2 separate regions of the Homo sapiens genome follow, and region 2 is linked to region 1. A link means that fine-mapping ties the variant in region 1 to the expression of a gene that starts in the linked region. Tissue or cell type: whole blood. Region 1 holds a variant in brackets; the other region holds the start of a gene. All regions are shown on one strand. Distances are from middle to middle.

The links. PIP is the estimated chance that this variant, and not a neighbour inherited with it, causes the effect.
Region 2: it holds the start of TPM1, and the variant in region 1 is fine-mapped to the expression of TPM1 in whole blood (TOPMed, PIP above 0.99).

What each region holds. Positions count from the first base shown.
Region 1 is chr15:62,996,538-62,999,294 of GRCh38, reverse strand. No RefSeq gene overlaps it. Among named protein-coding and RNA genes, the nearest start is that of TPM1, 45 kb to the left of the region's middle. The variant T/C (reference allele first, on the strand shown) is at 1,124.
Region 2 is chr15:63,041,508-63,044,007 of GRCh38, reverse strand. TPM1 (tropomyosin 1) reads right to left here and starts at 1,261. Exons shown (of 10, transcript NM_001018005.2): 1 at 1,065-1,261. The coding sequence starts at 1,178. RefSeq lists enhancers at 1-489, 1,403-2,317.

The DNA.
Region 1 (2,757 bases):
CAAAAGTGGAGACTTAAAACAAAAGCAGAAAACTAAACAAAGAAAAAGGTGGAGTGTTAAGATGGAGGCAGGAGCTTAAAGAAACAGTCTGGCATAATAAAAACTGCAATACAAAAGTATCAGGGCTGCTCCCAGCCGGAAGAGCCCAGTCCTCTCTTGGAGTTTACTCTTATTTCCTTTTGCTTACTTTACTAATTGGTCTCTTAGCCAAATTCTTTCCTCCAGAAGGACTAAAAACCGAAGACTCCACACTTCCCAGTAACAATAGGAAGTGACAGAAGGGCCCTGGATGAGGAATCCTGACCCCAGCTTTCTCCTTAGCTTGCTCTGTGACTTTGAGCACGTCATGTTGTCACCGTGGGCCTCATTTTCTGGTCTGTTAAGTAAGTGCCACCCAGAGCTTCTTAGTAGAGGAACAGGACCAGAATTAATGGCCCAACTCTCTGTTTTGGACATAAGAGTCTGAGGTGGGAGTAGAACTTCTGACTGGAGGTAATAATTACAGCTCGTTTTCATCGCATGCTTACTGTGTGCCAGGCACTGCTGTAGAGATTTAGGCATGAGTATTTTTCTTTCATCACAGCCCCATGAGGTTGCACTTTCATATTATCAGTTTACAGATAAAGAACATGAGGCGAAGAATAGTTAAGGTCATAGCTAGTAAGAGGTGGAACAGGATTCCAAACGCAGACACTCAGACACCAGAACTTTCGCTGTTACAATAAAGATCTACTATATCTCTCCATCGTAAATGTCCTGCTGGCAATTGGAAATACCTGAAACAGCTAAGAGGCTTGCTCATCAGGCAGATGTGGCAGTCATCAAAATAGAGGTGACAGGTGGAAAGCCAGAGAGATATTTAAAGAGTGTGGAGTTGCAGCACCAGTAAATACCTGTTGACTTAACCAGCCCAGGGTAACAGCCCTTTGAACTTCTGTATGGTTGTAAAAATGTGACTTTGTTGAGGGGAGTTTAAAGCATGATTGCAGGTAGGTGTAGAAATCTTGGGTGAGGGGAAGGGGACATTTGCTAGCACCCTGCCCCCACCTGCCCAGCATGCTCTAGAGGTAATGGCCCTTTCCTTTATAGAGATTTAGGGCCGGAAATAGGTCCCTGCTCATTG[T/C]TTCAGAGCTCTGAAGACACGTTTGGGAAGTTACAAAGCAACCATGATGCCATACTTCCTTCACCGTAGAGACTTGTCCAGTAGATGACACTGGGTGTAATTTGGTCTCAGGCAGAACTGGGCCAGAATTTGATAGTGGGTAAAGCAGGTCCTTGCAGAAGGCTAAATTACAGGGGGTAATGCCTCCTTGCTAGTCCTCCTGGACTAGCAAGGGGCTGGATTTTCCATGGAAGGGAATGACCTTGTTGGTGGCAGATGCCATTCTATGGCCTTCTCATCTCTGTGTGCCCTCCTGGGGGTGGGGGTGGTCCCTTTTCTGCCCCAGCGTCAACTCTCACCTTCATGATAAGATTCCATAATCTTCGCCTCTAGCTTGGACCTCTCTCTGGCCTCAGGCTTTTATTTATATCCACCTCCTGGACCTCTGTATGTGGAGGCCCCGCTGGTAACTCACGCTCCATTTGTCCTGGTCTATTTCCCACAACTCCTGCCCTCTTTTGCTCTTCTCTTGTTAATAGAAGCTGTGTTCACCAAATTCTTCAGTGGTTTCCATCAGCTGCAGGGGAAAGCCCAGACTCCTGGGCTGGAACTCAGGGATATTCAGGTGCCAGACCCACCCACCTTTCCAGCCCCATGCCCAGCCCTTTGCATTCCAGCCACACTTGTGCCCTTTTACACCTTGGTGTCTTTGACTGATTTTTTATTAGGGTGCCTTTGCTTTCTGTAGCAGTCTGATTGCTCCTTTTTATCCTTCAAGACCTGGCATAACACCTTAGAGAAGCTTTGTAAGACTATAATCCTCTCCCTCCCCAGAAGAGGTCCTCCTTCCTTGGGGCTCCCTTGGCCTTTTTTTTTGGAGATACAACCTTGCTCTGTCGTCCAGTCTGGAGTGCAGTGGTGCAATCACAGTTCACTGTAGTCTTGACCTCCCGAGCTAAAGCAACCCTCCCACCTCAGCCTCCTGTGTAGCTGGGACCATAGGCACTTGCCAGCACACCAGGCTAATTTTTAAATTTTTTGTAAAGATGAGGTCTTGCTATGTTGCCCAGTCTGGGCTCAAACTCCTGGGCTCAAATGATCCACCCACCTCGGCCTCCCAAAGTGCTAGGATTATAGGTGTGAGCCACTGTGCCCGGCCTCCCTTGGCCCTTTCTGCATGCCACTAGTTCACGTTTTCCATGTTGCATTGCTAATATCTTTTCCCACGACCTTCCTGCTGGACACCAAGCTTCTCCATGGAGAGAAGCTTTCTGTCAAAGACTCTCACACTCAATTTTGTGTTCCCAGTCCCAGGAAAATGCTCAGGAGATGTGGTTTAAGAAATGAACCCATGGTTCAACAAATGGGTCAGAATTTCTGGGAGAATGGGCCTGTGGTTTACTGGGCCCCTCAGGATTTTATCCAAAGCATAATGGTGGTAAAGGGAAGGACAGATGCCTGGAGAGGCTTCCCAGATACCATGCCGCCCAGGACTCTGCATGTGTGAGGCCCTTGGGCCTCCCTGGCCCATCCTCCCTTCCTCCCCTGTTGTCTCAAATCTTGCAACAACTCACCACCTTCCTGTCTCAGCCCAGGACTCTCCCTTTGTTCCAGTCCTTTTAGAAGTCTCCTCACCTCTTCTAGGAAGCCTCTCT
Region 2 (2,500 bases), 45 kb before region 1:
TACAGGGAGGGAGGGGGGTGCAGCAGGCAGCGTGATCCCGAAGGGGAGGGGTGTGGGTGCACAGAACCAGAAGGACAGGGACAGCGGGAGAGACAGAGGGAAAGACAGGGAGGGAGAGAGAGAAAGAGAAAGAGTTAGCCATTCGTGCGCCACGCCGTGCCGCGCGCCCCGGGTACCTTGGCGGCGGCCTCTTCGGCGGCCAGGAGGCTGTCCTCCGCCTTGTGCAGCTCCTCCAGCACCCGGTCCCGCTCGTCCTCCGACACCCGCAGCAACTTCTCCTTGGCCGCGATGTCCTCCTCGAGCTGGGGGCAGCGGCGGGCGGGCGCGGGCGGCCGGCACGGACCGGGTGTTAGACACACACAACACACGGGCGTCGGGTTGGCTGGGGCCCCTCGGGCTCGGGGCGCCGCCGAGTTGGAGTGCAAAGGACCCGAGGTAACTTCCTCTTTACCCGAGCTGGAACCGCTCCGCGGCTCACCCCGCACACCCACCTGCCCTGGGACGAGACTCCTGCCGAGGTCTCAGCGGGCTCAAGTCCACTACTTGGGGACACAGAAGAACGCCACTGCTGGCCTGGCTTTCGGGCTGTAGCCTCCATTCCGCCCCATCTTTGTTCTTAGGTAACAACTCCAGGACTCCCTTCTCCTCCCCAAGTTTAAGGTTCCTTTCTCCCCAGTCAAAAGTCAACGAACTTCTAACACTTGAGTTACTCGACCCCCTTTCTCCATCCCTCGCCCTTCCTTCAAACGTCCCCAGGAACCGGGTGTCCTCCTCCCTCCCCCAAACTGATTCCCAGTCCTGAGAATAAAGCGCCTCTAGGACTTGATTTCGCGGGCCATGGGAACCAGAGAAGGGAAATAAGCGTCCTCAGACCAGACTAAGTTAGACTAAGCCTGGCTCTTGCGTTTCCCTTCCTTCTTTCCAGACGCGCGCCCTGGCCGCCCTGGGTGGTGGTGGGGGTAGGGTGGTGGCTCCCCGAGTCCTCGGGGTGGGGATCCAGCCGGGGGTGCCAGGCTCGAGTCCCGGCGCTCTGGGCGCGGGCGCAGGGCCGGGGAGGCGCAGACCTGCTTGCTCCTGTCTTCCGCCGCCTTCTTGTCGGCCTCCGCCTGCTCAGCTCGATCCAAGGCGTTCTCCTTGTCGAGCTTCAGCATCTGCATCTTCTTCTTGATGGCGTCCATGGTGGCGGCGGCGAGGGGCCCTGGGGCTGCAGCAGGAGCGGCGGGGCGAGCGCGCGGTCGGGCGGAGGAGCGGGAGTGCGAGCGCGGAGCCGCCTGCTTCTCCCAGATATGTACTTTCCCAAGGGGGCGACCGCATTCCTCAAGACAGCCAATACTTTTTTGGAAAAGCTTTTTTCTCCTGCCCCCCTTCCTCCTCTCCTCCCTCCGCCCCGTGCCCCCTCCCCGCTCCTCCCGCGGGGGCCGCTCGCCCATTCGCTGCCGGCCGCCGGCCTCCCAGTTGACGGTGGATATGACTATATATGGGGACCCGAGCCGCCGAGGCGGCGGCCGGAGAGGCCGCCCTGTTTCTAAACCTGCGCGCCAGGGAGAGGGCGTTGGGGCCGAGCCGGGGCCGAGGCGCAACCCTCCGCCCTCCGCGTGCCCTTCTCCCAGGGCCGGCACCCAGCCATTAGGGTCCCCAACCGAGCCCGCCCTGAGCTGCCGGAGGCCGGGAGAGCGCGGACCAGGTGGTGGATGCGCGTCGCCCCCCTGTGCCGTCCCCCGGCGCGCTTAGCCAAAGGCCCGGGGGCTTCCCAGCCGTGCTGCACCCCGCGTCAGGGTCAGTGCGCTCTCGGCACCCGCCAGCGCCTCCCCGGCAGCTCTCAGCCAGCCAGGTGTCATCCTGCGCGCTCACGCTCTGGAAACTCAACTGCAGCAGAGAAAGGGAGAACGTGGGAGAAAGCCTGGGGCGGCTCTTGAGACTTTCTCTGCGGGCGCGGGTCAGAGAGGCAGGGGGCGGCACAGCGACAGCACACGGAGTCTTGTTTTCTGCCTGCCCTTTCCCCCAGCGGAGGGACAGTCAAATACTTTAGGGACACAGGACTCAGTGGCGTACTTCTGTGCTTGCTGTGCAGTGCCTCCAAAAAGGTGTGCATGTGTGCGTGTGTGTGCGGGTGGCAGTCTAAGGGGAAAGAACATTGAGTTTAGACTCAGGCAATTTGGTCTGTGGTCTCTACTCTGCCACCAGCAACTGTGAGACCTTGTTTGCTGCCCGCGGCTTCCTCAACTTTAAATCCAGCGGGTAGATAATCCCCGAGGTCCCTCCAGATATAACTTGTTATCATTTTTCTTGCACTGATTTTAGGGAGTCGGCCTTCCATGTTAGATGCTTAGGTGCCAGGTTTCGGAAAACATGGGATCGGCGTTAACCTGGCTAAGTCATTGCATCCGCAGCCGCAACTCTGAGGAGGCTCTGCCGTGTGAGCTGTGCTTGGAAGGAGGAGGATTTCCCCCAACACTTCTTATTTTTAACTACTCCTCCCATCTCCCAAGGGGGAAAGGCT